Homo sapiens: one gene and its partners. The protein of the gene in region 3 purifies or fractionates together with the protein of the main gene of each other region. This does not show direct contact. Each region holds a gene or a part of one and is shown on either strand. Other genes may lie near its edges. The genes, in order: NRBF2, TRA2A, OVOL2, SIPA1L1, TRIP11, IPO9 and TMOD3.

What was found.
Region 1: the proteins of OVOL2 (region 3) and NRBF2 purify together in Homo sapiens (affinity purification with mass spectrometry, with the first as the bait; one large-scale study listed by BioGRID). This does not show direct contact.
Region 2: the proteins of OVOL2 (region 3) and TRA2A purify together in Homo sapiens (affinity purification with mass spectrometry, with the first as the bait; one large-scale study listed by BioGRID). This does not show direct contact.
Region 4: the proteins of OVOL2 (region 3) and SIPA1L1 purify together in Homo sapiens (affinity purification with mass spectrometry, with the first as the bait; one large-scale study listed by BioGRID). This does not show direct contact.
Region 5: the proteins of OVOL2 (region 3) and TRIP11 purify together in Homo sapiens (affinity purification with mass spectrometry, with the first as the bait; one large-scale study listed by BioGRID). This does not show direct contact.
Region 6: the proteins of OVOL2 (region 3) and IPO9 purify together in Homo sapiens (affinity purification with mass spectrometry, with the first as the bait; one large-scale study listed by BioGRID). This does not show direct contact.
Region 7: the proteins of OVOL2 (region 3) and TMOD3 purify together in Homo sapiens (affinity purification with mass spectrometry, with the first as the bait; one large-scale study listed by BioGRID). This does not show direct contact.

The regions. Positions count from the first base shown.
Region 1 is NC_000010.11:63,143,328-63,146,827, reverse strand, and holds part of NRBF2 (nuclear receptor-binding factor 2), read right to left. Parts: intron 620-3,500; coding exon 535-619; intron 1-534. UniProt on the Homo sapiens protein: May modulate transcriptional activation by target nuclear receptors. Can act as transcriptional activator (in vitro). Involved in starvation-induced autophagy probably by its association with PI3K complex I (PI3KC3-C1).
Region 2 is NC_000007.14:23,521,982-23,525,481, forward strand, and holds part of TRA2A (transformer-2 protein homolog alpha), read right to left. Parts: intron 575-3,500; exon of another isoform or gene 1-574. UniProt on the Homo sapiens protein: Sequence-specific RNA-binding protein which participates in the control of pre-mRNA splicing.
Region 3 is NC_000020.11:18,055,117-18,059,143, forward strand, and holds the start of OVOL2 (transcription factor Ovo-like 2), read right to left. Parts: upstream 2,801-4,027; 5' UTR 2,519-2,800; coding exon 2,419-2,518; intron 1,762-2,418; coding exon 1,541-1,761; intron 1-1,540. UniProt on the Homo sapiens protein: Zinc-finger transcription repressor factor. Plays a critical role in maintaining the identity of epithelial lineages by suppressing epithelial-to mesenchymal transition (EMT) mainly through the repression of ZEB1, an EMT inducer.
Region 4 is NC_000014.9:71,666,476-71,669,975, reverse strand, and holds part of SIPA1L1 (signal-induced proliferation-associated 1-like protein 1), read right to left. Parts: intron 1-3,500.
Region 5 is NC_000014.9:92,005,560-92,009,059, reverse strand, and holds part of TRIP11 (thyroid receptor-interacting protein 11), read left to right. Parts: intron 1-1,207; coding exon 1,208-1,420; intron 1,421-2,611; coding exon 2,612-3,500.
Region 6 is NC_000001.11:201,856,657-201,860,156, reverse strand, and holds part of IPO9 (importin-9), read right to left. Parts: intron 3,062-3,500; coding exon 2,963-3,061; intron 1,711-2,962; coding exon 1,604-1,710; intron 1,303-1,603; coding exon 1,163-1,302; intron 1-1,162. UniProt on the Homo sapiens protein: Nuclear transport receptor that mediates nuclear import of proteins, such as histones, proteasome and actin. Serves as receptor for nuclear localization signals (NLS) in cargo substrates.
Region 7 is NC_000015.10:51,892,153-51,895,652, reverse strand, and holds part of TMOD3 (tropomodulin-3), read right to left. Parts: intron 1,839-3,500; coding exon 1,708-1,838; intron 1-1,707. UniProt on the Homo sapiens protein: Blocks the elongation and depolymerization of the actin filaments at the pointed end. The Tmod/TM complex contributes to the formation of the short actin protofilament, which in turn defines the geometry of the membrane skeleton.

The DNA of each region.
Region 1 (3,500 bases), on a different chromosome or scaffold from region 3:
CATCAGCATGTTACTACAGGCATGCATGTAGAGATGAGATATTCAGAAGGGAAGCTAAAAAAAAGACCACAGGAAAAATCTCCCACATTTTAGGTAACAAAAGTCTTATAGTAAGTTTTGCATTATCAGCATGTTAGAAAACAGAAGCTCAGTGAAAATGAATTGGTTGGAATTGAATTGAATTACTATTTTTAGAACCTGAAATGGCCAACTATTTGAAACCCAAACTCCTTTTTATAATAACTAAGATAAAATGGCAGACTTGTTACAATCAGCTCCTGTTTTTAGGGATCTTTGGGCTCAGAGAGCTGTATCCAGGAACTGTTTACCACATTTATGCCATCTTCATGATTTAGAAAGAAGATTGGATTAGCAGGAGCTGGGAAATCCAACACACTTACTTGAAAAATAATCAAAGCTGATATTCTGGTGGGTCAGCAGTATCAGTCTTGCATATGAAAAGCAACACACATTATTACTATTGTGACTTTCTGCTCTTCAGTTTTACACTGAGTACTTAATAAGAATACTCACCTGCAGCCTTTTTGTGACAAGAAATAGCCTCTTCGTATTTGCCTGCAGCTAATAAACGGTCTGCTCGTCTGCTCTGTTGATGAGCCTAGAAGACAAACATCCCTAAGTTCCTCTGGATCATAAAATAAAACATGATTTCTTTCAAAAAGCAACTACCTTTTAAGAAGATAAATAATACTGTTTTGTTGCCACATATCAAATCACTATTACAGCTCTATCTGTAGCTGGGGAAATGTAATGGGTAGAGCCTAGAACTGCAGCATCTGAAAGGAACTGGCAACTTCTTTCACTTCTACCATAAGCCCTCTCAAGGTTAACACCAGGCACTTAACTCCTTCAGTGACTCACATTCTTCCACTCTTTGGAGATAAACCAAGAGTTACAATCATAGATTGTTATTCAAAATGTCTATTTTCTTGATTTTTAACAAGCTCCTTTCAAAACAAGAGCTATTTTGTAGATACTTTCACTAATCTGTATAGTCTAAAAACTATAATCAGGAAATCACTCATCATGTAGTAAAATCCAAGCTTCTCTTCTATCATCTCATTCTTTCAACATTAAAGTTACTATTTGTTTTTAAAATAAAAAATTTGGACATTGCAGTTGATGAATTCATGATACCAACATCTAATATTACAAAGATTGTTTTAAAGATATCTCATCAAAAGAACAAAGTCAAAAAAATCAGAAGTTCTAACAGCAAATAATGTAATTGAAGGAAAACTTATTAAATAAGCAGTCACTGGCCTCCTTACACTTTAATAATTTCAAAAGAGCTTTAAGTCCAGGCACAGTGGCTCATGGCTGTAATCCCAGCACTTTGGGAGGCTGAGGCAGGCGGATCATCTGAGGTCAGGAGTTCAAGACCAGCCTGGCCAACATGGTGAAACCCCATCTCTACTAGAAATACAAAAATTAGCTGGGCGCAGTGGCTCACGCCTGTAATCCCAACACTTTGGGAGGCCGAGGCGGGCAGATCATGAGGTCAGGAGATCGAGACCATCCTGGCTAACAGGGTGAAACACCGTCTCTGCGGGCGCCTGTAATCCCAGCTACTCAGGAGGCTGAGGCAGGAGAACTGCTTGAACCTGGGAGGCAGAGGTTGCAATGAGGCAAGATCATGCCATTGCTCTCCAGCCTGGGTGAAAACAGTGAAACTCCATCTCAAAAAAAAAAAAAAAAAAAAAAAGCTTTAATATACATTATTTCAGCTGCTTTAACTACGACTTTGTTAATGTGTTTTCCTCTCTTACATAAGGAGGCCCAAAAGACTGATGGGGAGGTCGTGTAACTTACATAAGATTATACATTTAACTAGCAAGGAGAAAGGCAGAGATAATCAGCTAAAGTTTTCTACCTCATGTAACGATTTTCCTCAGTAACAAACACACACGATTTAGCAAAGCTTCACAGCTTCACAAAAAAGCAAAAAGCATTGTACACCCATATTCATAACAGCATTATTCACAACAGCCAAAAGGTGAAAGCAATCCAGATGTCCATCAACAGATAGATGGATAAATGCAGTATACACACACAATGGAAAGGTACTGTCTTTAAAAGTAAGGTAATTCTGGCCGGGCGCGGTGGCTCACGCCTGTAATCCTAGCACTTTTGGAGGCCGAGGCAGGCAAATCACAAGGTCAGGAGATCGAGACCATCTTGGCTAACACGGTGAAACCCCGTCTCTACTAAAAATACAAAAAAAATTAGCCAGGCGTGGTGGGGGGCACCTGTTGTCCCAGCTACTCAGGAGGCTGAGGCAGGAGAATAGCGTGAACCCGGAAGGCAGAGCTTGCAGTGAGCCGAGATCGCGCCACTCCACTCCAGCCTGGGTGACAGAGCGAGACTGTGTCTCAAAAAAAAAAAAAAAGGGAAGATAATTCTGACACATACTACAACATGGATGAACTGTGAGGACATTAGACTGAATAAAATAAGCCAGTCATAAAAGGACAAATACTATACAAATCGACTTATTGGGTATCTAAAGTAGTCAAATTCTTAAAAACAGGAAAGTTGAATGGTGGAACAACTCATCATTGAACAGGGGAGGGGGAAATGGGGAGTAGGTATTCAAACGGCATAGTTTCAGTTTTGCAAGATGAAAAAATTCTGGACATTTGTTGCACAACCATGCGAATATACTTAACACTACTAAACTGTACACTTAAAAATAATTAAGAAGGTAAACTTCACGTGTTTTTTACATCACTTAAAAAAGGTAAAAAGTGGCTGGGTGCTGTGGCTCATGCCTATAATCCCAGCACTTTAGGAGGCCAAAGCAGGCAGATCACTCGAGCTCAAGAGTTTGAGACAAGCCTGGGCAATATGGTGAAAACCCATCTCTACAAAAAATACAAAAATTAGCCGGGTGTGGCGCTCGCACCTGTAGTAGTAGTCCCAGCTACTGAGGAGGCTGAGGTAGGACAATCACTTGAGCCTGGGTAATGGAGGCTGCAGTGACCTGTGATCGCACCACTGCACTCCAGTCCGGGCAACAGAGTGAGATCTTGTCTCAAAAAAAAAAAAAAAAAAAAATCGGGCATGGTGGCTCATGCCTGTGATCCCAACACTTGCGGAGGCCAAGGCGGGTGGATCATCTGAGGTCAGGAGTTTGAGACCAGTCTGGCTAACATGGTGAAACCCCGTCTCTACAAAAATTAGCCCAGCAGGATGGTGGGTGCCTGTAATCCCAGCTACTCGGGAGGCTGAAGCAAGAGAATCGCCGCTTCAACCCGGGAGGCAGAGGTTGCAGTGAGCCGAGATCGCACCATTACACTTCAGCCTGGGCAACACAGTGAGACTCGGTCCCAAAAAAAAAACAAATCTGTTCTGTCAGTTAGCTGAAAAATGATTTGTCTTGGATGCTTTTTAAAGACATGTCCCTTTGATGCTGCATAAAAGTACTTCACAGAATCACGTTTGCAACTGAGATTATAAATATTCTGGGCATGTTTACA
Region 2 (3,500 bases), on a different chromosome or scaffold from region 3:
AATAATAACCCACTGTTAATACTGCTAACTGTCCTCAATAATTCCCTACTTGAACCAGATCACCAATTCTCTATTAACTAAGTAATCATGCAAATTCATCTACAACTTGATCATACAGACACTGGAACATAAACCATACATTTACTTAACCTAGGACCCATTCATTCTTCCAGATTCTTTTAATTCTACTTCACTCTTGCTTTCTACTTCTCTTCATTCTTCATTGAGTTTTTCATTTTTCATACTTCGTGTATTCTTCCCCAATTCAAACAATTCAAAATAGCCTTAAAAAAATATTCAAGTGCTTCTATCTGACCAATCTTCTGTTCAATTTTTTCCCCCATTCAATTTTAATTTTCTGATCTTTAATACTTTTCATTAGCCTTCTTTTATCTTGATTTATCTTCCACATTCTTGGAAAAAACTCTTCAATTTCTTCACGAACATTAACCTTAATGGAAAAAGAACATTTAGTATATTTAAGCACGTGGGGATTATAAAACTCTGCTGGAGTTCAGAATGTTATCTACCAAATGGAAAAGCCAGCAGGTAAAGTGCAAGTAACTAGTTTATTTAAAAAAAAAAAAAAAAAACAATTTTATAGTCTTTAAAATTGTTCAAAACTCTAGTTTCTAACAAAGAGAATTTACTAAATTTCTCTAAATGCTTTTTAAACCATACTCTTCACCCTCCTCCCATGTTTCATTCTAGTTCCTAAAATGTGAGCAATTTTAATATAATTCAAATATAAATCTAACAACTATAATTTCCCCCCACCTAAGTGTTAAATTTTCACTACTTTATAATCTGAAGATTCTTAAAAATAAGCTTTCACTAAGTCATGCTAAGAAATCAAGATATAGTTAGAGCAAGGCATCCCAGGCTGAAATATTTGTACACACCTATCTAAACTCACCCATAGCACATGTCAAGGTTCAAATAAGTCAAAAAGAAAAAAATCAGTAAAATTACACCTTCTCCCAACTTTGACTACTATCTTTGCTCATTCTGACTTAAAATATGTTCTGAAGACAAACATACCGAAAAAACTAATAAGCATGAAATTCTTAAAATTTCCCCATTAGCTTATTAATTCCTGATATACACATTTTTGCAACCAGATCACTTTAAAATGCTCTATTATCCACGACATACCACAATGTGCAAGAAGGTACAAAATTTATATCATAGTCTTTATCTTTGATTCCATCTCTTTAGAATTATGTTCAGTTTTTACATAATTTATGCATTTATGTATACTGGTACTCCCTTCAGTGACTATATTCTATATCCAAAAAGTGATGGGTTTCTGAAAAAATTGGGTGTAAATCAAAGCATTCCAAATAAAATAACTTACTGATCATAAGCTTGTTTTTTTTAACTGCACAGATATGAGGCACTTATGATCAAAACAGGATGGACAGCTTGGTTTCTGTGTCCAGTTAAGCCTTGATTATCAGTGTAAATAATTATCTCAATTTCACAGAAGTAATTTCACACCAATTTATTTATGCCTTAAGACTATCACACAACTCAAACAGCTTTCTGAAAACTTTTCCTTTGCTTCAAGTTTAATGTCAAGACTTATTTATCAAGAACTGTACAAATGCCACCTGGTCATTTTCTTTCAGATAAAAACAAAACTGAAATACACAGCTACCTTTCAGCTCAATACCAACCTTTCCCATTTAGCTACCTACAAGTCTTTCACTGCATCTCAGATACTCTAAACCACTCAACAGATGTCTGGAGCAGGCATAGCAATCTGGGCTTTTTCATTCACTGAAACTATGAAAGCAGCATATTCAGTATCTTATAAAAAAAGGCATGGCTAATTTGCTTGTAATTTAAGTTTCACAGACTGGTTCATTAATCAAACTCATAAGAGTATCTTCCCCTCTTCTCTTTTGGCTTTCCTTTCCACAAAACAGACCCTGTGACATAACATTCATTTATGCTACTGTTGAATAGCAATAGCTGGATTATTATCTACGAACGCTGCTACAGTCCTTCTCAAACATACACAGGAGGCTTTGCTCTGTAAAACACTACAATTCTTTAATTTTACTAGGATGGAAATAAAAACCTTTTATTAAAGTAAACAAGATAATTCAGTAACATCTTAAAATTCCAATTTTAAATCCCAGTTTTGGAGTAGCAACAAAGCATTATGGTATGATAGAATGTCTTTTTAAGAGATGTTAGCTTATTTATTTTAAGAAGGAGGAGTCTCATTCTGTCACCCAGGCTGGAGTGTAATGGTGCGATCTAGGCTCACTGCAACCTCCACCTCCTGGGTTCAAGTGATTCTCCTGCCTCAGCCTCCTGAGCAGCTGGGATTACAGGCATGCACCACCTTGCCTGGCTAATTTTTGTATTTTTAATAGAGATGGGGTTTTCCCATGTTGGCCAGGCTGGTCTCAAACTCCTGACCTCTAGTGATCTGCCCGCCTCAGCCTCCCAAAGTGCTGGGATTACAGGTGTGAGCCACCGCGCCCGGCCAACATCAGATTTATTTTAAAAGAAGCTTTGCTTTTTATTATCAAAGGTGTCACAAATACCTAACCTCCTTTGTTGTCTGCCCTTCTTTCTTTTTATCTCAGAGGAAATCTCAGTCTGCACAAATTTCTTCATGGAAACATCTAAGCTAAAAACAGTCCTCTTAGCTGTCTCTAACTCCTAGCTACAAAGTTGTCACTATGATTTTAACTATTTTTTTTTTTTTTGAGATGGAGTCTTGCTCTGTAGCTCAGGCTGGAGTACAGTGGCACCTGATCTCAGCTCACTGCAACCTCCGCCTCCCGGATTCAAGCGATTCTCCTGCCTTAGCCTCCTGAGTAGCTCAGCTTACAGGTGCACGCCATCACACCCAGCTAATTTTTGTGTTTTTAGTAGAGATAGGGTTTCCCTATGTTGGCCAGGCTGGTCTCCATCTCCTGACTCCTTGATCTGCCCGCCTTGGCCTCCCAAAGCGCTGGGATTACAGGTGTGAGCCACCACACCCAGCTTCATTTTAACTTTCAAAAACAACTTACAAACTTATATTAACAAATCAGTAACTATTAGTAAACTTAACTGGAAGAATAAACTGCCAAGTATATAATTATTTAGAAATAAAGTAACATTTCTCAAAAGCTGTTACCAAATAAATGTCACTTTCACTGAACTCTGCATTAGGAATCAGGCTATAAGAAGTCCTTTATATAAAGAGGACAAATGCTAGGCTAATCCTTTTCTCTCTGACTCGTCTTCATTATGAAATAATTTCAACTTTTTCTCAAAGAAATTCATAAAACTATCCACAATTTGGAAAATGAATTGAAATTGCAAACAAAAAAGATTGCTGGGAATGGGTGGTATCTGCCCTGTTTCACTAGACTACTTGTTCTTAAAGCTGTCCAGTCAAGGAATCCTACCATTTCCTCAGTAATCTGGCTCCTGCATCCAATAACCATTAAAAATACACTGCCCGGTTTAAATGGGCAGATTAATAACTCAAC
Region 3 (4,027 bases):
ATCTAGGAAATAAGATTGGTTTACGTCTTCCTTTAATCCAGGATTCCAACGGCCCTGTGTGCCTGAGGCAGAAGAGTTTGCCTAAAATATTTGTTAAGAGACTGGATGAGAATCTGTCACTTTCTCTCCAGGGGAATCTGGGCAATTGGGGGACAGAGGGGCAAACTAGCTGCAGAGGCTCCCAAAACAACGTTGCAATTGTCCTTCCAGCCTGGTGATAAATATGCAAGTGGGGCACTTTGTAGAATCTCCCGAAGGGCAGAGCTACCAGCCTCAGGCAAATTTTTCCCTCCCACTTAACCCCACCTGGCCCGGAAGAGCCTCAGGCCAGCTGACTTTGAACCTCACCCTCACACTTACCGCTAAGCTGCCGGCCCGCACGGTTTCGGCAGCTTCTTCTTTAAAGAGGTCTTTCCTTTGGATCCCAGCTGAAGCCTCAAACCTCAGTTCAAAACCAAATGCGCCTCAGCCCACCCCGGAGTCAAACCCTGGGAATACGCAATGTGCATAGGGGACCTCTCCCAGGAAAATGAGGGGTCCTTTCTCAATCCACAGCAAAGCCCAGGCTCTCCCTCCCCACCGCCCTCTACTCCCGGTCTGGGTGGCAGGAGGGCACCGGAGAGCCCTGGAATTACCACCTGCACCGGGGGTCTAGGGGGTGCACAGTGTAGCACTGCGGCCCACCAGGCTAGAAAGAGGGGCCAAGTGATCATAAACCACCACCTCCTAGCTCCAGCTGGCTGAGTCAGTGGAATGGGATTCCTAAACCTTGGTGGGTAGCGGATACCTTTGAGCAGACCATCATGGAAGTTCTGCCCGAAAGCGCAGGTGGGCGTCCAGAATGTTCGAGGGGGCCCCGAGGCGCGACCATAGATGGGAGGAAACACTCCAATCCACTGGGGTAGGGGCGCTCGAGAAATCTGTAGTTGAACCCTTTTACCCATCAATTTAATTCAAGATTGGAAAGATGACAGATCTAAAGTGCCGTGCACAAGCCTCCTGTCTGACAGACACTGGGAACCGGTTCATGTTGGGAGAGGCCCACTATGTGTCAAGCTGCCGCCCAGGTCCAGAACATAAGCATGGGGGGTGAACTCTCAGAATCGCGGCGCCAGGAACTGCGTCCCAGAGGGTGGAATTTCTGAGAGCGCTGAGGCTTCCTTTCCAACCTCAGGAACTCCGACGGCCTTGGTTATTCTACAGGCCTAGCGCACAGAACGGGCTGCTGGCGGAAGGCAGTGATGCCTGTGCCTTTTCGGCAGTTCCAGAGGCAGCACTCGGCATCAGGCGGGGCCACCGGGAGGACGGAGCCCACTCCGGGAACCGGCCGCCCCTGCGCAGCAGCTACCCTGCGGGCGGGAGGACGCGCCGAGGCGCCCTGGCCGCCGCCCAGGGGCAGGTGCAGGAGCGGCGCGGCGGGCGCGCTCGGGGCGCGGGTGCCGGGTTGCGCAGGCGGGCGCGGCAGGGAGGGGCGCCGGCCTCGGGAGCCCGACGCCAGGGCGTGGTGCAGGTGGCGGCGGGGGCAGAGTCGACACAGTACCTTGATTTTCGATCTGGCGACCGGGCGCTGCTTGGTCGCCAGGTGTCCATCGGGGCCCTCGGCGTCGCCGGGCTCGGGGGTTTCGCTCTCGGGGGCGTGCGGGGACGAGCTGCTCTCTGCTCCTCCAGGCTCCCCCGCGCTGCTGCTGCCGCTGCCGCTGCTGCTGCCGCCGTCGCTGCGGCAGTCCTCGGGGGGGTCGTGGAGCAGGCGGCCTAGGCCCACTGTGGAGGGAGGGGCCGCGCCCCGACACACACACTCGGCGTCAACCCGCACGCCCGCGGCAGTTTGACCTGCGGGCGGTGCTGCCGCCGCCCCGCCCCGGACCTGGGCACCTCGCCAAGTGGGCAACGTCGCGGGGGAGGCCAGTAAGCCCCGAATCGGCCCACAGAGCTAGCTTGGGGTGCTCGGAGCCTCTTTCCGGTCCCAGCCAAGGCGCCCACGAGGAACCGGGCGGCCACGAGCGGCGGAGGACCCCGCGCGCCAAGTTTCCTCTCAGGGCGGGGGAGGCGGATCTGACCTCTCCCCAGCTAGCCCCAGAAGGGTTGGCGAGCCTTTGTGCACCCCCATGAGGACGTGAGATTGGGGGTAGCCTCTGCTGGCTTTCAATCCCTTTCCTGGGCCACCTTGGCCCGCGCTGCAGCCAACGGTCCCGCCGCCGGGCAATTAGAGGCTCCCACTACGGGGAAGGGGGCGCCTAGAGTCTGGGGCATCCCAGTCCCTCATTGCCTGCCCTAACCCGCCTAGAAGACCCCCGCGTGCCCCCCGGAAGAGGGGGATGAGGTGGGGAGCCCGCCCCTGCCGATGAGCAGAGAAGACCCGCCACCCCTTCCCCCACCCCGGGAGCCCAGCGCCCAGGCCCGGCCCCCGCGCGCGCTCACCTGGGATGTAGGTGTCTGCCCTTTTCTCATCCGGGAGCTCATCCCAGCTGCGGACCGAGACCCCCAGGCTCCTCCTCTTCACCAGGAAGACTTTGGGCATGGTGGGGTCCCCTCTCCCGACTGCGGCCCCCTCCTCCCGGCTGCTCCCCGCTAGGGGCAACGGCGGCGGCTCCGTCCCCGGCTCCCGGCGGCCAGAGCCCACCTTCCCGCCTCGCCTGCCCTCTTCCTCCACCCCCCGCCGCGGCGCGGCCCAGGCCTCTCCCCCGCACGCCTGGCGACTCCCAGCCTCCCGGCTCGGCGACACCTATGCCTTAAATCGCGAGTGAGACCACGCCGGGGAAAAAGTTTCATAAGGTGGAATAGAAAAGGCACCAGGAAACTTGGGACTGAGCATGCGCCCTGCAACATAACGGTGTCAACAAGCTCGCTACCTGTCCGACCGGTTCCGGCGGCCGGGGCTGCCTGTTCCAGCCCTTCCTTAGGCATGAATGTTTGCAAAAGAATTTAAAGTCTGTTCTTCCCCCTCCTCTTTTTAAGAAAGGAAGAACATTTTTTAATCAACCCCCGCCCCATTCCCCCATCACCTGCACCTCGAGGCGAGCTCTTCGAGGTAAACCCCAGGTTCGCCTCCCAGGGCACCCCTCCGGTGAGTTGGGGCCTCCCACGAGTTGCCCCCCTCCCCCGCCCGGTGGATTTGTCTTCGACGAGCCAGAAAATGGCTCAGTTCCCCTGGACCTTGTGGAGCCTTCCTGGGGCTTGATGAAATCTGGGCGGTCAGAAGGGGGAGGCGGCGGGAGACTTCCAAGGATTCTGATTATTAATAATGGGGGGTGGGGGCTTAGGGGCTTAAGCTTTCCATCAGCTACAACACCCCCCCCCCATAAGCAGTAAAAATAAATTTAAAAATTCGGCATCTTTAGACCACGTTATTTTTCTGACTAGTATCATACAATCTAAGAAAAACAAGCCTTGCCCCGCCAAAGCAGCTTCTCCTCACAAGACGTTGCACCCCCCGAGAGCCCCCTCACCCCAAGTAAACACACAATAGAAACAAAAGCCAGGAGCATATTATGCAAATGCAGCTTCAAAACAAGCCCCCAATCCTCGCCCACTCCCACCGTTGCCTCTCCTAACCACCCGATCCCCAAATTCTGAGACTGGGAAATACCTTTCCAGGAAGCTAGCATAGTGAACATTGGCTACATCTTCTAGCCGCCCCTACCGGGGAGGTAGGAAAGCTTTGCATTTATTATTATATCTGTTTGTTCCTATCAACCTTTATGCCTGGAGGGGAGAGGGAGAGAAGGAGGGGGAGTTGGTAAAATATGCCAAGTTTGTAAAGCAGTTGTGCTCACGTTGCGGGGCGCGCTGCCCTTCCCAAGGCCTTGTTCGGGTGCGCCCAGGACAACCGGCACAGCCTCTTGTGTCGCTGCGGTCGCCCTCCTCCAGGAGGTCGTCAGACGTGTGCCAGCTGCCGGGTGCTGCGGGGGCGCGTCTGGTCAGGGATGCCCTGGAGCCCAAGGCTCACCCAACAGCCAGCCTCACCTGTCTGTAACCTGACCCTCCGCGCTCCCAGCCTACAGGGCCCGGGAATCAACACAGCGGTTTT
Region 4 (3,500 bases), on a different chromosome or scaffold from region 3:
GCTCTGTTTCACTTTTTTTTCTTTAGGAAGGGTTTGCTTTAAGATATTCAGCTTTGTTTTTCAAGAAATAGTTATTTCTTGTGAAAATAAGAAAAATAAAAATCAGCAACCTCAGGAGGCAAATTATATTTCTGGTGGAATGGAAAAGCTACATGCTCAGAAGATGCCATGGGATGGCCTATCTGTTGGTTTTACAAGTGTATTTTTAAAAGACTACCTAGTTCACTTCATGACAAAGAACAGTGGCAACCAACACTCCATTTTCTAACTGGAGGAGAGAATTCAGAGACTTCCATATGGCTTAATTATACCAATATGTATTAGGAAGGCAATTTTTCTTGTCTATTGTGAACTGCCTGACTTGAACGCTGACAGCTGTATAATTTTAATTTGATCGTGTTATTTTTCTCTTAAAGTCAAGCAAAAGATGCTGAAATCCAGGTTTGCTAGATTTTTCTAAGTGGAATCCTGTAAGAATCCAGAAATATTTAATATCTTTCACTTTAAAATTGGCAACTTCTCATCTGCTATTTCACTCAAATTGTTATTCCTTCTCAGAAAATATCTGTGATTTTATTTTAAATAAGGAGAGCAAAATGTTTAGCAGGGGGTGTGATTTTAAGCACCCTCCATCTACTTGCCCCTTAAACTAACTGGCTTTCTGCAGATCCATTTATTAATTGATAGAACTTTAGACAAACATACACTGAAAACCTACCAATAATTAGAAACAGCTATAATGAACTGTGAGGAAAAGAACTGAATCCTTACCATATAATTTTCAATGATTCACTGTGGTAGGGAGGTAAATGATACAGGCACTGAAATCAGCTTCGCATAGTCAGAAATAGAATCCTTACAGAAGATGAGGAAGATGATACCCTGGAATGCTCTTTTCAAATAAATGATTTTGTTTTGGATAAATCAAACTGGCAAGGTTTCTACAAGGTTAAAAGCTCATTAATTTAGATGCCACAAATTCTGAACTCTTGATAATAAGGCCTGGTTTAAGCTAAACAGAATATTTAGAAAAAAAGCCTTTCTAGAATCTCAGTTTGCTGCATGTAGTTACTTAAGATATATTAATTATAAACGGTTCTTGGTATTTTTAAAAGCAGATTCCAAAGGGCCTCTGCTTGGCTGTATGTATATTAGCCTAGTTGGCAATTCTGTGTCTTCTTGGAAATAATACATGCTTTAAAATCATAGCCATGCTTTATTTACCCAGCATTGTTGAGGACTGGAATGTTCTACTCAGCAGGGTTATCTAGATGACAGACAGACAGAGCTAGAGGCTAAAACAGTGATGGAAAGTTATCACAGGAAGGGAACTTAACAGAACTCAATGTTCCTCAAATTCTTTCAGTAAAATCTTTGGGTTTCATTTGAAAATTCACCTCGATTTTACATTCTACTGAAAAATATTTGTGTTCATTTTCATATAAAAATATCTTCTCACTCCAAAATCTTTGGGTACACTGAGCGACCAGGAAGGTGTCTTGTTTGTATTCTGTGGTTTGACATCTTCATGAACCTCCGGTTGAGCAGCTGGTACAAATTCTTCACTTCTCCAGGAACAGATACAGAGAAGTAAAAGGATTTACCCAGATTTGTTAGAGAGAGCCAGGATTGGAATGTAAGCTTCTGGACAGCCAAGAGAGTGCTCCACGACAAGCCCACACTTACTCCCTCTGAGGAAGTGCTTTCAAACCTCCTACTCCTGAGGTGCCTGCTAAAAGGGACCATTCACATGGGTCACATGGCCTAAGAGATGATGAGGCTATTTCTACTCGATATGGGCCATGTAACATTGGTTGGCATCAAAGAGCTTGAATGAAATAACAAGTGTTGATACCCAAAGCCAACTTCAAGCTGACACATGAAAATGTTCCAAAGACTTTTTTTTTTTTTGAGACGGAGTCTCACTCTGTTGCCCAGGCTGGAGTGCAGTGGCGCGATCTCGGCTCACTGCAACCTCTGCCTCCTGGGTTCAAGCAATTCTCCTGCCTCAGCCTCCCCAGAAGCTGGAACTACAGGGGCCCGCCATCTCGCCTGGCTAATTTTTTGTATTTTTAGTAGAGACAGGGTTTCACTGTGTTAGCCAGGATGGTCTCGATCTCCTGACTTCATGATCCGCCTGCCTCAGCCTTCCAAATTGCTGGGATTACAGGCATGAGCCAACACGCCCGGCCTGTTTCAAAGACTTCTGAACAGTTTAGTGGATAAAAATTGAGAAATATAAGACATTTGAACTTTGGAAGCACAATGGAAAAACAGCAATAATCAACAATCCCCAGCCCAAAATTTAAAAGGAAGGTGATACAGAAAACATCAAATGGGAGAAGGAAGTTTCCTCTTCTTGGAGCCTGAATCAGATTACTGGCCAGGGCAGCTTCCAAGAAAGCAGATCTGGGCAAAGGACAGGAAAGATCAAACACGTGCCAATCATTCTCTCGATTTCTAATAGTATTGATCCACCAGTCACTGAGTACCTACTATGTGCTAGGCACTTTGCCTTTGCTGAGGATCAAGGCTGAAGATGTCCCGGGCTCAGCCCTCCAGAAACTCAAAGTCTGGTGGGAGCCACAGCCAGTGATTTGAGTCTCCTACTTGCGAAGTACAGGGTGCTACTGGTAGCACTTAGGAAAGGCACTTTAGTCCTGGGAGGTCCAGGGAGCCTTCTCAGAAAAAAGAAAAGCAGGAATTCATCAGATGGAGGGAAAGGGGAATGTGTGAGAGGAGCAGCATGTGCAGAGCGGAGGGGCAGAGCATGCTGTTCTGGGGAGTGGTGAGTAGCTCCAAAGGAGTGAGGTAGGCATGGGGTGCAGACTGGTAGATGAGACTGAGAGACAGGAGGCCAAACCTGAAGCCCCCATGCAGTAAGCTATGCTTGCAAGTCTGAACTTTCCTCTAAATGCTTTTAAGCACAATAAATGACATAATCAGATTCTTGTCTTAGAAAGGTCAGCTGCAGTGGACAATAGGGATGCTGATTAATTGAGGCTTGAAATAGACCTTCTGAAAGAAATTTCTATCACTTGACCTACTTGGATTTTTCTTCTTCTCAGCTGAAGCTTGCAAATTCTTTTTTTTTTTTTTTTTTTTTTACAGAGAGGAAAGAGGATGAACACAGACATTTAATGGACATGCATCACGCTTCCTCCCTGCCTATGCTAGACATTTTACTTAATAGGATTTTAAGTGGATGTCAAGCAACTTCCCACTGCACTGTTTAACAATTTGGTCTAATTCCAAGTGCTTTTTGTACTATATCATACAGATTCCTTTCAACAGTTATTACATTTTAATTACCGGGTATGGAAACCTCTCTGAGAGGAGTAACACATATTTCTACCTTCCTAAACATACCTACTGACCACAGTTTAATATTTGTTTTGAACAATCAGGGTCCTTGTTATGACTACTTATTACTATTTTAGTTTTAAAATGAATAACAACTCTTTTATTTCATCAAATAGTGTGTCAATGTTCCAATTTAC
Region 5 (3,500 bases), on a different chromosome or scaffold from region 3:
AATAAATTTTTGAATTAGAAGGAAATAAGAATTGTGATACAGATACTCTAGTATAGCTTTTATCGGATCTCTGTTTTTTCAACCAACTCTCCATAGCAATGTTGAGTTTCTTTTATAAGGTTTATATTAGGCTGTTTCTTTGAAGGAATTTGAGATTCTTATTTTTTTAATTTTATTTTTTAGAGAGAGAGAGTCTTGCTGTATTGCCCAGGTTAGAGTGCTGTGGCTGATCATGGCATGATCATAGTGCACTACAGCCTTGAACTCCTTGGCTCAAGTAATCCTTCTGCCTCAGCCACCTAAGTAGCCTCCTGGGACTATAGATAAATGCCATCATGCCTGGTTCAATACTCTATTTAAAGTAGATTCCATATGGGTTTGATTTTTAAAAATCTGTCAATGAAAGAAGGCTTTAATATATAGTTTATTACAAACATCATAACTAGAGACTGAAATAATGTTGAAGCATAGAGAACTGTCCCACTTCTGAGATTTTGGAGAAAGCATTAAATACCAGGTAGTAGACTATAAAATGTATATATACTATCTTTAGGAATGTCAGGTGTGACAGAGGGGAACCTAGTCTGGTTAAAAGGTAAAGGAAGGAAGGAGGATTCTTTCTAGGGTCAAGAAAAAGTTCCATGTTCTAACAGAAGCAAAAGTAATAAGGGAAATTCCTTTAGTAAGAGAAAAGAAACCTTTTATTTTCTAATTAGAGAGGCTAAACATTTGGGTGAAGGAGTGTTGATTTTTTATATTTTTATTTAGTCTGAGGCTGTTGATGACTGGATGTTAGAGAATGGAAGTGAGGAAGGCAGAAAGACTTGCGGACATTTTGGAAAGTATGTATGTATGGTAGGTGGGGCCAGGGGATGGATAAAGGGTAGCCACGGTGGAGCAGGATAGGAGAGGCTCTCAAATGGGAACGTTTTTTATAAAGAAGAACTTGGTGCTAGAGGACAAACTTACAGTCGCTGCATCTGTCTAGGGTTATAGAAATGTTTTGCTTGAAGCTACAAGTAAAATTGCACATGAATGAAGGATGTGGTTTGTTGAATTTCACATACAATTATTGAGGTATTGTTCAATATTATTTCCAATATAGAGCACTTAAATAGAATCCCAAGTTTTGCTTCTATGTATGTTTTTAATCTTTTGGTGTCTCCAATTGAAAGTATGTGTTGCTTTTTTCCTTTTATCATTTCAGGAAGAACTTCAGATGTCACTTTTAAAATTGAACAATGAATATGAAGTAATTAAAAGTACAGCTACAAGAGACATAAGTTTGGATTCAGAATTACATGACTTAAGACTTAATTTGGAGGCAAAGGAACAAGAACTCAATCAGAGTATTAGTGAAAAGGAAACACTGATAGCTGAGATAGAAGAATTGGACAGACAGAATCAAGAAGCTACAAAGGTAACACTGTATTAAATACAGTAAGGCAGCACATTCTACTAAGTAAACTAAACACAGAAATGGTGGGTGTGATTTAATTAATATTTTAGTTCATAGAGATTGACAAACCTTTTTGGTAAAGTGCTAGATAGTAAATATCATTGGCCTTGTAGGCCATATTGTCTCAGTCTACTCAACTCTGTTGTTGTGATACCAACAAATGAGTGTGACCATGTTTCAACAAAATTTTATTTACAAAACAGGCAGCATCCCTGAGTTGGCCAATGGCTATAGTTCGTTGACTCTTACTCTAGTGTAGAGTTAAAAATAAACAACATGCCGGGCGCAGTGGCTCATGCCTGTCATCCTAGCACTTTGGGAGGCAGAGACGGGTGGATCACGAGGTCAGGAGTTCAAGACCAGCCTGGTCAAGATGGTGAAACCCCGTCTCTACTAAAAATACAAAAAATTAGCCGGCCGTGGTGGCAGGTGCCTGTAATCCCAGCTACTCGGGAGGCTGAGGCAGAGAATTGCTTGAACCCAGGAGGCAGAGGTTACAGTGAGCCGAGATCATGCCACTGCACTCCAGCCTGGGCAACAGAGCGACTCTGTCTCAAAAAAAAAAAAAATACTATTTACCATCTTTGGTTTTAAATTCTTATCCCTAAAATGCTTTAAGAAATGACAAGATGGGGCCAGGCACAGTGGCTCATGCCTGTAATCCCAACACTTTGGGAGGCTGAGGCAGGCAGATCACCCGAGGTTGGAAGTTTGAGACCAGCCTGACCAACATGGAGAAACCCCATCTCTACTAAAAATACAAAATTAGCCGGGTGTGGTGGCGCATGCCTGTAATCCCAGCTACTCGGGAGGTTGAGGCAGGAGAATTGCTTGAACCTGGGAGGTTCAAGAGGTGGAGGCGGAGGTTGCGGTGAGCCGAGATTGCGCCGAGCCGAGATTGTGCCATTGCACTCCAGCCTGGGCAACAAGAGCGAAACTCCGTCTCAAAAAACAAAAAAGACAAGATGGGTTTGCTGTAAAATAATAATAAGTAATTTTGTAGTGGGTGTTTTTGATAGAAAAACAATGTTTTTAAGAAGGATTAGAAATATTTGAGGATTATTTTCTATTATGTATGAGATTTTATAAAATTTTCTTTGAGTACTAAAATGAGAACATGTTGTAAAGTCACCATGCAAATTTTTCTTTCAGCACATGATTTTGATAAAAGATCAGCTATCAAAACAACAAAATGAAGGAGATAGCATCATCAGTAAACTGAAACAAGATCTAAATGATGAAAAAAAGAGAGTTCATCAACTTGAAGATGATAAAATGGACATTACTAAAGAGTTAGATGTACAGAAAGAAAAGCTAATTCAAAGTGAAGTGGCCCTAAATGATTTACATTTAACCAAGCAGAAACTTGAGGACAAAGTAGAAAATTTAGTAGATCAGCTAAATAAATCACAAGAAAGTAATGTAAGCATCCAGAAGGAGAATTTAGAACTTAAGGAGCATATTAGACAAAATGAGGAGGAGCTTTCTAGAATAAGGAATGAGTTAATGCAGTCTCTAAATCAAGACTCTAATAGTAATTTTAAGGATACCTTACTTAAAGAAAGAGAAGCTGAAGTTAGAAACTTAAAGCAAAATCTTTCAGAATTAGAACAGCTCAATGAAAATTTAAAGAAAGTTGCTTTTGATGTCAAAATGGAAAATGAAAAGTTAGTTTTAGCATGTGAAGATGTGAGGCATCAGTTAGAAGAATGTCTTGCTGGTAACAATCAGCTTTCTCTGGAAAAAAACACTATTGTGGAGACTCTAAAAATGGAAAAAGGAGAGATAGAGGCAGAATTGTGTTGGGCTAAAAAGAGGCTGTTGGAAGAAGCAAACAAGTATGAGAAAACCATTGAAGAACTGTCAAATGCACGTAATTTGAATACCTCTGCCTTACAGCTGGAACATGAGCATTTAATTAAACTCAATCAAAAGAAAGACATGGAAATAGCAGAACTCAAAAAGAATATTGAACAAATGGATACTGACCATAAAGAAACTAAGGACGTTTTGTCATCTAGTTTAGAAGAGCAGAAGCAGT
Region 6 (3,500 bases), on a different chromosome or scaffold from region 3:
GTTCCATGATTTAAGTACTGAGAGAGAAAGCAAAGGCAGTGTTTTCGGATGGTGATCTGGCTCCAAGGATGAGAAAAGGCATGGCATGGCAGAAGCAAGTAGCAGAAAATGCCACATAGACAACAATGATTCTCAGCTACTGCTCTGTATTGCGGAAGAAATCGGTCTAATAGTAAAGGGCTACCTTTTTTTTTTTTTTAAACCAAGTCTCGCTCTGTCACCCAAGGTGGAATACAGTGGTGTGATCTCAGTTCTCTGCAACCTCTGCCTCCTGGTTCAAGTGATTCTCCTGCCTCAGCCTCTTGAGTAGCTGGGACTACAGGCTCCTGCTACCACACCCAGCTAATTTTTATATTTTTAGTAGAGATGGGGTTTCGCCAAGTTGGCCAGGCTGGTCTTGAACTCCTGACCTCAGGTGAGTCACCTGCCTTAGCCTCCCAAAGTGCTGGGATTAGAGGCATGAGCCATCGCGCCTGGCCTACTTTTTTCTTTTTAAGACAGATGGCTAACATGGGTATGAGAATGGAACATTTTAATTATTTGGATATTGGCCAAAAATAAAGTTTGAGAAAAATGACAGGAAACAAACAGGAAGAATGTGCCTGATACAGAATGCCTGAGGGCATTCTGGACTTAACAATGGGAGCAGTACTCGATAATTCTCAAGGTACAGCAACCAGATTTGGATTCCATTCAAATGCCAAAAACAACCATGAATGGGAACGCCAATTTGGGAAGAAACATAAACATCACGGAAGAATTATGAACTAGGCAATATTAGATTGTCATTAGGTGAAGCTTGAATCGGCCTCTGGGCTGTTTTAGAGGTTCGGATGAGTTCAAGCTGTAGGGTGCAAACAATTTTCACTCAAAGGACACAAGAATATCTGGCCTACCAGTCTAAGTGAACAATATAACCAAGTTAATGACAGGTTTAAAGAGTTTCCTTTATATATATATATATATATATATATATTATACTTTGAGTTCTAGGGTACATGTACACAATGTGCAGGTTACATATGTATACATGTGCCATGTTGGTGTGCTGCACCCATTAACTTGTCACTTACATCAGGTATATCTCCTAATGCTGATCCCTCCCCCAACCCCACAACAGGTTTAAAGAGTTTCTAGAATCCTGGCACGTGCTGAAACATACCTGAGAGGTTGAGGTCTGCAAGGATGACATTGGTCAGGAACCCATGCATGTCAAAATGAATCCTGCCATTTTTCACACTGTCAGTGATGATGGCCTTCACTGAGCCTAGGGCAAGCATGCATGCCTCATGGATCTTCCACCTGTGAAAGGATACTACAGCCTAGTAAAACATACTAAACTGCCAAAAGAGATAAATATTTGAGGAAACAAGATTCAGAAAAGGGCACTCCAGCACAATCTCTTCCAAAAGAGTCATTTACCTTAAGCCCTTCCATTCTAACCTATAGCTGAAAAGAGTGAAATTTTAATAATAAGAGATTAAAATCTGTTATTAAATTAAAACCAGATTTTCAAATTAAGATAAAAATAAATCCATCCTTTCAAGACTTTTTAAGAAGGGGTAAACAAAAGCATCTTAACCAATTAGCGGCTCACTCTTACCAGTGCTCAGTGCCACTGTTTTTGGTTTGCTCAGCTTCTTGTAAATGTCGAGTGGCTGCAGCAGCCAGGGCTGCTGCACTTTCATTCTGGAAATCTGTGGCCACAGCCTATAGAGAGAGAAGAGCTAATAAATCTGTTTGTGCCCATTAAATGCATTTTAATTGTAAACCGCTTCAGTCATGACTGTTAGAAGTGATTGGTTCAAGCTCTTTCACATACATGTGCAAACCCCTAATTGTATTAAAAATGTTATACCAGTAGGTCAGGGTCTCTAATGAAATTAAAGTAGTATCTGTATTTCGGTAGTGCCTAGGCATTGTAAGGCTAACCAGTTGGCTCCTTTGGCTATATTCAGCAGAGCATAAGTGAGCAATAATAGATCTAGCTTTGGATGACAATGGACCAAATATTTGCTCTCTTGGAGACTGATGATAGAAAAATAAGTCTAATCTACTAATTGGAACTGAATATAATCTTTCACAGCTCCTTAGAAATACTAAATGATAATGAGAAGTGATTCATCAACAGAGAACAAATCTCCTACCCAACAAGAAGCAAGTGGCAGTTTCTTCTTAGTATTTCAGCCTAGAGACAACTCTATGCTCTAGTCAGAAGAGGCAAAGAAAACATGAGCAGGTATTTGGATGTTAATCTTTCAGCAATCTGTTTTGTTTTGCTAGGTTTGCCAACCTTTTGTCTGTGCTATAGATTCTTGTTGAAGAGTGAATTAAACTGAAATGGCTTTTTTTTTTTTTTTTGAGACCAAGTTTCACTCTTGTCGCCCAGGCTGGAGCGCAATGGTGTAATCTTGGCTCACCACAACCTCCGCCTCCCGGGTTCAAGCAATTCTCCTGCGTCAGCCTCCCGAGTAGCTGGGATTACAGGCATGCGCCATCACGCCCGGCTAATTTTGTATGTTTAGTAGAGATGGGGTTTCTCCATGTTGGTCAGGCTAGTCTTGAACTCTGGACCTCAGGTGATCTGCCCGCCTCGGCCTCCCCAAGTGCTGGGATTACAGGTGTGAGTCACCACGCCCAGCCATAAACTGAAATGTTCTTGATTCAACTACCCTTACTCCATGGAACACTTTATCCTCTATACAATTCTCCCCCGCACCCCGGCCCTATGGTCTGCACAATTCTTTTATCTAATATTTAGTTTTAAGTTAGAACCAGTAGCAATGATTTTAGAATTTCTGAGTCTCGAATTTCATTTCAGAAACTCTCTTGCATCCCCAATAAAGTCTGAGATAAAGCCACCCAACAACACTGCTCACCTTGGATTAGTTGTCTACAAAAAAGAAGAAATGCTCAAGTGACTGATAGAAATTATGTGGCTGAAGTATCAAGGTAAACTTACCAGCAACAAGTCTTGAGCTGCTATTCTAACAGTATAGGAGAATGTATCATCATCTTCATCTTCTACAAATTGTTGGGGGTTGGCTGTCCATACTTTAATCTGAAAAGATCAAGTTATGTCTTTGTGATGCTGCCAATCTGATTCATAGCTTTTCATCAACAGATACAGGAAGATTTCAACCTATTATCCTGAAAAAACTCTAGCCTTTTGCTGGATGCAATGGCTCACAACTGTAATCCTGACACTTTGGGAGGCCAAGGTGGGAGGACTGCTTGAGCCCAGGAGTTTGAGACCAGCCTGGGCAACATAGTGAGACCCCACCTCTACAAAAAATAAAAAAGTCAACTGGGCATGGTGGCATATGCCTGTGGTCTCAGCTACTCGGGAGGCTGAGGCAGGAGGATGGCTTGAGCCTGGGAGGTCAAGGCTGCCGTGAGCTTTGTCTACACCACTGCACTCCAGCCTGAGCAAAACAGCAAGACCCTGTCCCAAAAAGCAAACAAAACAAAACAACAACAACAACAAAAACTGAAACAAA
Region 7 (3,500 bases), on a different chromosome or scaffold from region 3:
AAATACTGAAGATGCTGGTTTCTCTCAGTAGTATCTTGAGACTTCAATTCCCCCTAGCCTGGTTATTTTCAGATGATTACTGTTTATTTAGAGAAAGGGATACACAGGGACCAAATTAAAAAAAATAAAAATAGGCCGGGCGCAGTGGCTCACACCTGTAATCCCAGCAGTTTGGGAGGCCAAGGTGGGCGAATCACTTGAGGTCAGGAGTTCAAAACCAGCCTGGCCAACATGGTGAAACCCCATCTCTACTAAAAATACAAAAATTAGCCAGGTGTGGTGGTGGATGCCTGTAATCCCAGGTATTCAGGAGGCTGAGACACAAGAATTGCTTGAACCTGGGGCAGGGCAGAGGTTGCAGTGAGCCAAGATCGCACCACTGCACTCCAGCCTGGGCAACAGAGCAAGACTCTGTCTCAAAAAAAAAAAAAAAAAAGTTAGTAATCAACTATGAATATAAGCTTTCTCTGAGGCTTTCCTTCCTCTACTCACAGGAAGGATCACTCCCTAGAGGAGCACAGAAGCTTCCTTCCCTAGGCTCAAGATTTCCAGATGCTCTCCTCCACTTGTCCTCGACTTCAAAAAAATCAAGTTTTAAAATGAGGAATTTATAATGAAGCCATTACACAATGGCTAATATCTAGATAATTTGAGTTTACTTTTTGGTAATTAATTACCCCATGTCCTCCTAATTTCTTCTTTCCTTACTCCAAGGAAGAGTTGCATTGTTTAAAACTCAAAATAAGATCCCAGAAAGCCTATTCCTAGGTGTTTACTCAAGAGAATTTAAAACATGTTCACACAAAAACCTGTGTGTGAAAAGTATATAGTGGCTGTATTAATAAACATCCCAAACTGGAAGGAACCCATATGTCTTCCAACTGATGAACAGATAAACAAACTGCAGCGTATCTGACACACTCACCATGAATCAATCTCAAATGTATTATGCTAAGAAGCCAGACCCAAAAGGCTACATACTATAGGATTCAATTTATATGACATTCTGGAGAAGGCAAAATAATAGGGAAAGAAAATAGGTCAGTGGTTGTCAGGGGCTAGAGCTGGGGGTCAGAGAATGACTACAAAGGGGTATGAGAGAACTTTTGCGGTGACAGATATATTCTATATCTTGAGTGTAATGGTGGTTGTACAAAATTGTATGCACCTGTCAAAATTCATAGAACTGGACACTAAAAGGGAGAATTTTACCATATTTAAATTTTACCTCAAAAAAACAGGTTTTATTTTATTTTTTGAGATGGGACAGTGGCAGGTCTCACTATGTTGCCCAGGCTGGTCTCAAACTTTTGGGCTCAAGCCATCCTCCAGCCTCAGTCTCCCAAGTAGCTGGGATTACAGGCATGCACCACCATACCTGGCTAAGGAACCGAATTTTAAAAAAGCAAGACCCAAGAGGCTAAATGTTCTTAGAAGTGGGCAGTATTTAGAAAACCTGAGATTTATTCTGACAGTTTGTAGGGTTTACATTTTTAGATGATAAATTCTTCAAAAAGCAAGTTAGAAAATACTATACCATAATACTTCAATATCTAAAATATGAAGAAACCTATGTTAGCATACTGGTAAGAGCAAAAACTTTACGTTAAAGTAGAAAGAATTAGACTATTTTATCAACTGCCCAGCTCTCATCCTAGGTTCAACTAACTCAAAGCAATACAAAACCACTCTGATTAGCACACTTACCTTTATATTATTCAAATTAACTTCAACAAGATGAGCATCGTTTTCTTTAGTTCTCTTCAAACTCTCTTCTACATTGGTTGGATTTGGTGGCTCATCAAATACCGGAAGAATCTTTTCACCTTTGACCACATCTGCAGTGATAAATGAAAAGAGCAGGATTTGATACCATTTTTTTTTTTTTGAGACGGAGTCTCGCACTTTCGCCCAGGCCGGAGTGCAGTGGCACGATCTCGGCTCACTGCAAGCTCCGCCTCCCGGGTTCAAGCCATTCTCCTGCCTCAGCCTCCTGAGTAGCTGGGACTACAGGTGCCTGCCACCACGCCCAGCTAATTTTTTGTATTTTTAGTAGAGACGGGGTTTCACCATGTTAGCCAGGATGGTCTCTATCTCCTGACCTCGTATCAACCCGCCTCAGCCTCCCAAAGTGCTGGGATTACAGGCAGGAGCCACTGTGCTCAGCCTGGAGTTGATACTATTACAGTGCATGCAGATAATTGACTTGGTAACATCTCTTTCTCTCTCTCTCATACACGCATATTTATTCAAGGGGACAGATTTAAAAGTTCCATCCCCACAATTCCGAAAAGATCCTTTATGTGTTGACACATATTTATTTATTTAATTTTTTTTTTTTTTTTTTTTTTTTTTTTTGAGATGGAGTCTTACTCTACCACCCAGGCTGGAGTGCAGTAGCAAGATCTTGGCTCACTGCGACCTCCTCCTCCCACGTTCAAGCAACTCTCCTGCCTCAGCCTCCCAAGTAGCTGGGAATACAGGCGTGTGTCACCATGCCTGGCTAATTTTTGTATTTTTAGTAGAGATGGGTTTCGTCATGTTGGCCAGGTTGGTCTTGAACTCCTGGCCTCAAGTGCTCTGCCTGCCTTGGCCTCCCAAAGTGCTGGGATTACAGGCAGGAGCCACTGCGCTTGGCCTTGACACATATTTAAAGCACCCAAATAAAATTTTACTGAATATAAATACCAAACATATTCAACATTTAATTTGTTTGCCATGTATCAGTCTTCAAAAATGAATATTTTCATTGTCTTAGTATATTACAAGATATTTTTACCACTCAAATATATTTGATAGCACAAGTTGATGATGCCATTTGTTTTTGGCAAAATTTAAGATAAAATAATAGTATGATAAAATCTAGCATCTCATCATTTCTCTGAAATTTGACTGATAATTGGCATAAAGGCAGTAAGAATCACAGACTTAAAGAAATATAGCCTAAATGAGAAGAATAAGGTGATGGGAGGGCACATTACCTCTTCCTCCCACGAGGAGTACTCTGCAGTGGGAAAGTGGGGAGAACTTCCTGCGAGAAAGAAGGAATAGGAAAGAGGGTAGGAATAAGGAGCAGAGAGGGAGAGGAGGTAAAGGTACACAGAAGAGCTACTGAGACAGAGGCTCCAAAATTTACTGCCCTCCCTCACTCTCACTCCCTAATCTTTACCTCAGCTACCCACACAGGAATATGATGCTTCAGATGTGAACGACAGAGGACCTGAAATCCTTGAGCCCTTTAAAGAGATCACTGTGCTCTGATGCATGTGTGTGGAGGTCTACGAACACCTATAATAGGTAAACTTTTATGGATACATTTTCTGGGGAAAACATTACTTTTTTGTGGTCATTCAAGTCAAAGACCACAAAAGGCTCACAAACTAATGAATGAGCACGAAAGAGTAAGAGCAATTGACATGGAAAGACTGACCGGGTTCAAAATGGACTACTATCTGGCTTTTTTCCTTCCTGCCTTCCTCTAGATTTTAGCAGCAAAACTC